2 linked regions of the Homo sapiens genome follow. The protein of the gene in region 2 purifies or fractionates together with the protein of the main gene of each other region. This does not show direct contact. Each region holds a gene or a part of one and is shown on either strand. Other genes may lie near its edges.

Region 1 (4,421 bases), on a different chromosome or scaffold from region 2:
CTTCAGTACCCCTTTTTGTGGAACGGTTGGGGGTGGGACATAAAGACTAAAGGAAACCCTGATTGTCACTGAGTCCTGAGCCCAGGCGCCTGGACGGGCTGCATCAGAACCACCTCATGAACTGGCTTTTCATGAGCTTGAGGCTGGGGCCCCTGACGGCTTCTCAAGTGATCTGAGGCCCCAGGTGGGGTTTGGGAACCCTTGGTGTGTGTATACAGTTGGCACCTAATAGATGCCAGCCATGTTTGGGGTGGGAAAGGAGCTTGGGTTGTGGCCATAGGGAGCTGGGTACGAATCCTGTACCCAGGATTGGTCTCTGGGCTTGGTCATCTTGGGTATACTCTGGGCTTGGTCATCTTGGGTGAATTGATTCCTCACTTCAGAATCTCAGTTTTCATATAAAATTGGGCCTGCTCTGGCAGAGTTGCTGTGAGGATGGAGTGGGACAACGCTGGGGCTTGAGACCTCCCTCAGTACCCCTTCTCTTCCCAGGCACTCAGAGGCATGGGGAGGGGGCCCAGGGACACTGAAAGGGGACAGGGAGGGTGGGGAAGAGCTCCACTGACTGGGCAGCCCAGGACAGGATATTTGCATGTGACTCTTTGCTGCTGCCTTGATGTGGCTGGGAGGGGGGAGGAGGAAGTAACTGAGGGTGGGAGGCTGGCGGATGGAGGGTTGGGTGAGGGACCTGTGGGTGTGGGGGAGGAGTTCCCCTTCTGGGAAGGCCTTGCCCTGGGTTGAGGGGTGGGTGTCTGTTGCTCACTCACAGTGAAGCAATGACTGCAGGGCATGTTCGCAGGAGGCCTCTAGCAAGTTTCTCAATGGGCCCCTGCAGTACTTCCTTCTCCAGGCAGCTTAGGTCGGGGAGTCATCTAGGGACCTAGCCTTGCCCCCTCCCTAGAAGGCAACTTCTGCCCTTGTACCACCTGCCCTCACCCAGGCCAGATGGATACAGGACTAGAAAGCCAGAGGGGAAACTGAGGCCCAGCATGAGAAAGTGGTTGTCTAAGGTTGCCATGGCGTTGTTGGAGTTGGGGTTCACCTCTTGACTCAGCCCTACTTGATGTGGACAGTGTCTCCCATTCACTACGTAACACACATGGAGAAGCTGAGGTTCACAGATAGCGAGTGATGGGCCACAGTGTGAATCAGAGATTCAGACCCAGCTCTGGGAGGCTCAGGCCCCTTCCACCCTCCTCAACCTGGTGGCCCACAGGCCACACACATTTGGCTAGCTCCCTGACACATTTTATTTGGCTGCAGTGAGTTTTTTTTTTTTTTTAAACAAAATGGGGGCCAATATTTTATGTTAGAGTCTGCAATTCCGGCTGCTTTTGAAAAAATCAGAAGAGCTGGCCACATTGAGCCAGAAACCCTCCTAGCAGCAATCAAGCAATCAGCTGGCGTTCTCCTGCAGCTGGCCCTGTCAGAGAGGCCTTCGCTGTTCCTGGTCATCTCACATCTGGCCCACGTTTCCCACACCTGTTGGGCTCTGCAGGCAATCGAACTGCTGCTGTGACCTCAGCTGCTGCAGATGGGGTGTCTGCGAGGTCAAGCAAGACAGGCAGGGGACCGGGGAAGCCCCAGTGTGCAGGGGACGGGGAGTCCTGGGTGCCAGCCCCCTTGCCCCTGCCTCATTTGAGCGTCTGATATCTCTGATGTGGGGCCTGGTGATAGAGGCCTGGGAGCCTCCTTGTCCCCATGCTGCCCTGTGCGTCTCTCAGGCCTGCCCCACTGGCCTAGAATCTCTCCCTCCCGGGCCTTCTGCACTTCTCAGCACTGTGACGTCCTTCTCCCCTTTCTTCACCGGGGGAACTCCTACCTGGCGGGAAGCAACTGGGGCTGGACCCATTGTTGGAGCTACTTGGAACACTGTCCTCCCGCAGCGACCTCACTGCCTCTCTTGGCTCTCCCAGTGCAGGAGCCTGAAGCAGGAGAAGCACGTGTGTCCTGGAACGCAGCAAGGGCGTGCTGGAGCGTGCAGAGGGAAGGCCTGAGGTGCTGTTCTGCCTCAGCTCTGCCTTGGCTGGGCCCTAGAGGCCGTGGACCGCACTGAGGACCCAGAGGCAGTTCTGAGGCAGTGGGACTCGAGACCCAGTGTCCTATTGCTCCCACAGGTGGCGGTGGAAATCGCAAAGGCAAAAGCAAGAAATGGCGGCAGATGCTCCAGTTCCCTCACATCAGCCAGTGCGAAGAGCTGCGGCTCAGCCTCGGTGAGGCCTGGGCAGAGACTGGGGGTGCTGAGGCGAGGGGCCCTGCTGGGGCCGGGGGAGCCTCCCCTGAGACCTTGCCCCGGAGCAGAGGGGCAGACTTGGGGGCTCCAGTGAGCAGGAGGATGAGGACTGCACCATTCAGCCCAGTTTCAGTTCCTGGGCTTGGGACGGGTGGAGAGCAGACAGCAAACAGGGTCACACCGAGGGTGGTTGAAGCGGGTGTCGGGAATAGGGCAGGGGCAGATTGGGGCAGTTGATTCCACTTTGAAAAGGAGAGCCAGCTAGGGTGAGCAGGGCCCACAGGACAGAGGGAGCAGCAGCTGGGCCAGCCCACAGACTGACTGCCTTGGGACCCCCAGGCTGGGGCGTAGCCTCCCAGGCCCAGCCCTGAGGGGTGCCCAGCAAATCCTTGACCAGAAGCCCTCAGCCTGGGCAGTGTGACAGGGTTACTCCTGGGAGGGGACAGAAGGGCCCAGGACCCCAGTTCCTGCCAATCTTGGCCAAGGCCCCAGGTCTGAGCAGCACCCAAGGTTGCTGAGGCCCCCGGTGGCCTGCACGTGCGCAGAGCACACCCGGGCTGCTTCCACCTCCTGGGAAGGAGGCCCAGCTGAGAGCCTGCCGGAAGCCACAGCTTCCTCTCGCACTTTCGCCAGGCAGGCAGCAGGTGTGGGCCTGGCCCCGGCTGGGCTGGGCCGGAACCTCACGGACCGCACCCAACCCCAGTACCGTGACATACGCAAGTCGTGTAAATCAGGAGACAATGCAGGGAGGTGGATGGAGGCCTGGGCTCTGGAGCCAGACTCCCGGCTGTGTGACACTGAGCTAGTCAGTTAGCCTCTCTGGGCCTCACAGCCCCAAAACAGCTGTGCCCACCTGAGGGTTGTGGTGAGGGTTCTGAAGAAGATTGTGGCTACCACACTGCAGAGCTGGAAGCTGTTGTGGGGGCCCAGGGCCTGGTGGTGTGGGCACATGCCCCACCCATGTGCTCTCGGGCTGTGGACCCAGCAGCTTCCATCACTGCCAACAGAGCGTGACTATCACAGCCTGTGCGAGCGGCAGCCCATTGGGCGCCTGCTGTTCCGAGAGTTCTGTGCCACGAGGCCGGAGCTGAGCCGCTGCGTCGCCTTCCTGGATGGGGTGGTGAGTGCAGCCCAGCCCTGCCCAGCCCCGCGGGTGGCCGAGGTCCTGGCCCCATGTGCCCCTCCTCCCCACACCTGCTGCTTGCCCTGCCCAGACCTCCAGCTTCTTTGCTTTCCACCCTGCAGGCCGAGTATGAAGTGACCCCGGATGACAAGCGGAAGGCATGTGGGCGGCAGCTAACGCAGAATTTTCTGAGCCACACGGTGAGTGAGCAGCGATGGAGAGATGATGGGAGCCACCAGAGCCCCGTGTCAGGCACAGGAGTGACCACAGTGTCAGGCTTCTGAGGGTGGTCTCTTCATACAGACACATGTAACACACAGCCTGGACAGAGAGTGCCCTGGAGCTGCTCCAGGCAGCACGGCGGGCATGCAGCCCAGGGTATGGGCTGGGCTTGGGCCAGGCGGCCTCCCAGTGGCTCTGCTGCGCTCTGCCTCATGGGTGGGCAGCAGGAAGGACTTCAGCAACCAGGCTGGCTGGCACACCCTGGCCTGCAGCCTCTCATGGCACCAGCCCGAGTTGCCTGACCCCTCTCCCCTGGAAGTGGGCAGCCATCCAAGGGAGCCCCTGCACTGACCTGTCTGGGGCTTGTTCCCAGGGTCCTGACCTCATCCCTGAGGTCCCCCGGCAGCTGGTGACGAACTGCACCCAGCGGCTGGAGCAGGGTCCCTGCAAAGACCTTTTCCAGGAACTCACCCGGTAAGCCTGTCCCTGCCCACAAGCCTGGAATTATGCCCAGCGGAGGGGGCTTCTGGGGGCCAGGAAGACTGTGAACAGCTCGGTGGCTGGTGAGGGAGCTCAGCTGCCCAGCCCTGGCCTTGCCCCTGCTGTGTGACCTGAGCAGGCTGCCTCCCCTCTCAGTAGCACCCACAGCTTCAGCACAGGCTGTGTGTCTCCCCGCTCAGGGGTTAGCAGGAGGACTGGCCGACGACGATACCTGTGGGCTAAGCCTGTACAGAACGGGAGGCCTGGCCCAGCAAGCCAAGAGCCTGAGGTGTCAGGGGCTGGCGGGTGAGCTGGGCCTGCCTTTCCTCAACAGGCTGACCCACGAGTACCTGAGCGTGGCCC
Region 2 (5,343 bases):
GTGTTTCCATGATGAAATTCAGATCAGGGCATCAATATCCATCCTAACTGTGGATCCTTAGGGGCTCCAAACACTTAGGTGCACTACCGTATTGCCTCTTGCCCTTTTTGTGTGTCTGAGGCTGAAGAACATGAACACTGAGGAGGTTGTTCTGCTTCAATATTAACTATGGAAGTGTTACCAGTAGCGAAACCATATGAGTCTGCAGCAGCCCCAGTTCTTGCCCCTAATTCGACTGAGGGGCATAAAGCAGAAGAAGAAGCCGAGGCAAGTTTTAGAGCAGTAGTGAAAGTTTATTAAAAAGCTTTAGAATGGCTGTGCGTGGTAGCTCATGCCTGTAATCCCAGCACTTTGGGAGGCCGAGGCGGGAGGATCTTTTGAGGTCGGGAGTTCGAGACCAGCCTGACCAACATGGAGAAACCCTGTCTCTACTAAAAATACAAAAAATAGCCAGGCGTGGTGGCACATGCCTGTAATCCCAACTGCTAGGGAGGCTGAGGCAGGAGAATCGCTTGAACCTGGGAGGCGGAGGTTGTGGTGAGCCGAGATCGCGCCACTGCACTCCAGCCTGGGCAACAACAGTGAAACTCCATCTCAAAAAAAAAAAAAAAAAAAAAAGCTTTAGAGCAGGAATGAAAGGAAGTAAAGTACATTTGGAAGAGAGTCAGGGTCAGGTGGGTGACTTGAGAGATCAAGTGCACTGTTTGACCTTTTGACTTGGGTTTTATACATTGGCGTACTTCTGGGGTTTCATGTCCCTTCTACACTGATTCTTCCCTTGAGATGAACTGTCCACATGTGCAGTGGCCTGCTAGCTCTTGGGAGGGGAGCATGTGCAGTGTGTTTACTGAAGATGTATGCACGCTCACTTGAGGCATTCTTCCCTTAGCCGTCTCGCATTTCCAGAGGAAGATCATATACCAATTAAACTGCTATTTTTCCTCTTAGTACACACGCTTGAGACCACTCGCCCAACTCCAGAGATCTTACTGGGGAAGTGGTAATCAACAGTACCAGGTTTTTTCTATCTATTGGGTTGACTGCAACTAATTATTATTTTAGAGAGACAGTTAACAACCACCTGACTATCCCGTGATGGTTGCCTGACATTCTTGGTGGGTGGGCTTGCGGGGAGCCCTCTCCTGCCTTGCTCATGTTTGACTAGCTACCTAATGTAACAGAAGTGTGCTCTGGAGAAAGTCTATTGCTGTGTACCTTTCACTGCACCTGAAATATTTTGTTGTTGTGTGATGAATGAATTGCTACTATGTGATGATCTTGAATATTTTCACTTTAATGAAGAAGAGTTACTATCAGATTGTTCCCAGAAATAAAATTTTACTTTTCTTCACCTGTGACCCCTTTTCCTGACATAAAGCCATAAACTTTAGAGTTCAGTATGGAACAGAAGCTAAGCATGATAATGATTCTGAGCTTTCAGCTCATGCCTGAGCTTGTGAAGAAATGAAAAAAATAGTCAATTTCAGGTCTGCTCCTGGTTTACCTAAAGATGTGTGAAAAACTTGGGTCTCTGTCACAGTCAGCCAAAATCAGTCAAAATTCATTCTAACTCTAAATAGCTCTTTCATGTTTTTTCTGTCAATGTCTGTAAGTTTGTGAAAAGAACAAATATTTTTCTTAAGTCTTGAAATTTTTATTGGGAGAAATAAAGAGAACTGGATGTTTGAAAAATTTTGTTTTATTTTCTGTTTTTTTTTTTAATGTAGCTTTGTAGTTTATTTTGGTTATAGTTAACATTACAAAATAGTCTTGTATATGTAGAACAACTCATTGACAACTCAAAATGTACAAAATCAGAAGAAAAGAGTATAATTGTCTTCAAGATGCCTATTATTCTGAGGCTGGTTGGTGTGCAAAAAGCCTGCAGTCTCACCACCTATAATTTTCTCTAATACTTTTTTTTTTTTAAATTGACCTCAATACACTTTATTGCAGAACAGGAAATACTAAACATTTAAGAAAGATTTGTGGAAAACGATTTGACTTCAGAAAAATATTTGTTCCATCTTAAGAGGATCAAACTTCAGAAATATTTTTAAAAGTCTTCCTCTGAAATGTCTCAATTCTTAGTGATTAAAAATAGCTAAAAGGGCTTAGAGTAGTGGAGAGACTGGATTTCGGTATTAGATTCAGGTTTGAGTTCTGGTTTTGCCCTGTTCTAAGTGTGCGTGATTTTACTAATTAATAATGATGTTGGACTGCTTCTCTTAGGTTTATTTGTCTAGTGTGTTTCCACTTCTGACAAATATTTTCCATACCTTTACTTGTGTTTTCTTATTGGTTTGTAAGAGTTCTGTATAGAATCTTAATACTAATCGTCAATTGTGTGTACTACCACCTGTAAATATGCCAGTCTGTGTCTTATCTAATATTTCTTAACGTTGTAAAATTGTTCAAAACTGTTTTTAGTTTCAGTGGCTTCTGTTCTTATTTTTCTGGGAGATATTTTTTTTTCTCATTTTAAATAACAGACTAAATAGTCACTGTCTGATTTGAATAAATCAAGCCAGAAATATCCTGACAGTACACCAAACAAGACCTGTGTGTATAATGTGAGTTCTTTCTTTTTAATTTTAGAATCAACCTTGTCCTATGTTAGGCAGCTGGAGGCAAGAGTAAGACAGCTGGAGGAAGAAAATCGCATGCTGCCCCAGGTGGGTGACTTCCAGAAGCTCATAGCTAGTCAGTGCCATTTAAGTTGTAGTATTTTATTTGGAATTTAAAAGCTCAATGACGTTTTGTCTTTTAAATGATAGAAATCATTTTGTAAATAGCCATTCATCAATGTAGAGTGTGATTATGTTCCATGATGGCCATCATCTTATCCAGATTTCTAAGTGTTATACTAAAGGGTGCAGATATCTGAAATGAGAATGTGAAATAATTTTGAAAGGAAGAACAAAGGAGAAGGATAAAATAATGAGAAGTAGAAAATAAAGACATGTCGATAGTACTACTCATATACACCATGCATGTGGTTGGTGGATATAGGGAAGGTAATCTTATTTAAATAGAAAACTTGCTAATTTCTGAACTAGGCAAAGCTATAGGTAGTTGGAAGGTTTCGCATTATAATTAAATTAGTACATTCTAAAATTCTTTGTGGTATAATTGAACTCTTTCAGTGCAACAAAGTGATGACAGCAATTGACAGTTTTTGCTTTGGGACTTCATTTCTTTCCCCTTAATTAAAGTAAAGTGGCACTTTTTCCAGGATGTTTAATGTCTTCCCATACGTTTCACTTATAAAATTCTTTCCATGGGCTGTTAACTTGATGAGAATGATGCTGGTCTTTTGAGGAGGTGGTTTTCAGAAAATGTTTTGTTGAGGAGTTGAACAAATATGATTCTAGGTTGGTTTCCTTTTCAAGCATGTGGACAATAATATATTTTAATGTTTTATAACAAGAAGTTTTCCAAGAAATTAGTCACTAGGGTTCTTTCTACATTCTGGTAATTATTTCTGTTTCATAAATGACTAAGGCAAAATTATACCTCAAACAACTAGTAAGCAGTAGTTTAAATAAAAGGTCAAAGACTAACCAATCTTCAGGTTGGTATTTCAGGAGAAGAAATTTGAACATTAATGCAAAGACCCTTTAGAAAGACATTTTAGGTCTTTTTAATCTTGTTTTGTTTTTGAACTACTTTTGCTCATTAGTGATGATTTGGGCTATCAGGTACTGCACATAAGAATCCTTTTTTCTTTCTTCCATTGGCTAACAGTCTGCCCAGAAATCATGAGATTAAGTGAAATAAACCTACAGTAGTTGTCCCCCTTTTCAAGGGGAATACATTCCAAGACCCCAAGTGGATGCCTGAAACCACGGATAGTACCAAACCCTACAATACTATGTTTTCTTCTATACATAAATATATATGATAAAGTTTAATTCATGAATTAGACACAGTAAGAGATTAACAACACTAATAACAAAGTTATTATTAGTAAAGTACTATTAAATACAATAAGGGTTACTTGAACGCAAGCACTGAGATGCTGTGACCATTGGTCTGATCATCGAGATGGCCATTAAGTGACTAACAGGCAGGAAGTGTAGACAGCATGGATTCATCCCAGGTGGGATGGAGCAGGACAGCATGAGATTTCCTCACACTACTCAAAACGGCCCACAATTTAAAACTTGTTTATTTCTGGAATTTTCCATTTAATATTTTTGGGCCCTGATTGACTACAAGTAACAGAAACTGAGGCTAAGGGTGGAATTCTGTACTTCTATCTCTTCTCAAACTGTACATGTGTTAAAATTCATGATGACAGAAGAGATTGTGTCATGAAATAAAATACTACTGGTGGGTTTGTTTTCTCTTTGCTCTTCATTGTTTTCCTTTTAAAATTTTTTTGTGTTCCTTTTTGCCTTTTATGTTAAATTCACAGTATGACTGTCCTAAGGCCCTTGACTGAAAACATCTAACTTCTTACTTGTTACAAAGAAACCTACAAAATCTAGTTAGTTTATTATACATGGTTGTGCCATCTCTCAGGCGACTGGGAATGTAAAAGAAATAGAAAAAAAATCCAAGTGATTTTTGTTCTTAGTTTCCTTCTGAGAAGGAATTGAGGCTGACATCAAACAGCAAACTAATAGCATGTATGCCATCTTATCAAAAAAAAAAAGAGGCACAACAAATGTGAAAATGATGACAAGGCTGATTCTTAAAAACCTGTGAAAGTGAGTGTTAGAAGTCTTGAAGGAAAATCAGAAGAGTCCTTAACTATACTTGATGTGTCTATGTGTATTGGAATACATAGTACTTGCATAGTTAAGACTAAGCAAGATTAAACAACTACTCAATTTAAAGTGTTCAGTTATATCCTTTGAAATACATTACTATTTTGCTACCAAGGAAGGTTTTTTGGTTCATTTTGTTTTGTTTCATTTTTTTCTCTCTAAGAAATGGCTAGGAAAGATCATGTTTTATTGATGCTAAGATGTTATTGATGTGGGATGCACCATCATGATATGTAGCATTACAAAAGAAAAATGGTATCGGTTATACCATGCCAGATTCTTGCAGATTTCAGCGATGTTACAAATGGGAAAACAATGTTTTAGTTTTAGTTATTTATTTGTCAAAGTAATTTAGTTATTTACTTGTCAAAGTAATTTAATACAAAGAGAACCCATTGTTTGAAATATGCTGTTGGACATATGCAAAGAATGCAGTAGATCTGTCAATTCAAAAACAGGATTTCTGTTAAATTTCTATATCAGAGAGTGGTGCCTTCATTTACTACTAAGATATAATAGAGGTACCAGTTGCAGCTACTCCTATAAATACAAACTAACATGAATACAG

Evidence for each region. The genes of interacting proteins can lie anywhere in the genome.
Region 1: the proteins of CCDC85A (region 2) and GRK6 purify together in Homo sapiens (affinity purification with mass spectrometry; one large-scale study listed by BioGRID and IntAct). This does not show direct contact.

What each region holds. Positions count from the first base shown.
Region 1 is NC_000005.10:177,428,755-177,433,175, forward strand, and holds part of GRK6 (G protein-coupled receptor kinase 6), read left to right. Parts: intron 1-2,117; coding exon 2,118-2,213; intron 2,214-2,956; exon of another isoform or gene 2,957-3,182; coding exon of another isoform or gene 3,183-3,240; coding exon 3,241-3,353; intron 3,354-3,478; coding exon 3,479-3,556; intron 3,557-3,951; coding exon 3,952-4,052; intron 4,053-4,392; coding exon 4,393-4,421.
Region 2 is NC_000002.12:56,340,281-56,345,623, forward strand, and holds part of CCDC85A (coiled-coil domain-containing protein 85A), read left to right. Parts: intron 1-2,598; coding exon 2,599-2,675; intron 2,676-5,343. UniProt on the Homo sapiens protein: May play a role in cell-cell adhesion and epithelium development through its interaction with proteins of the beta-catenin family.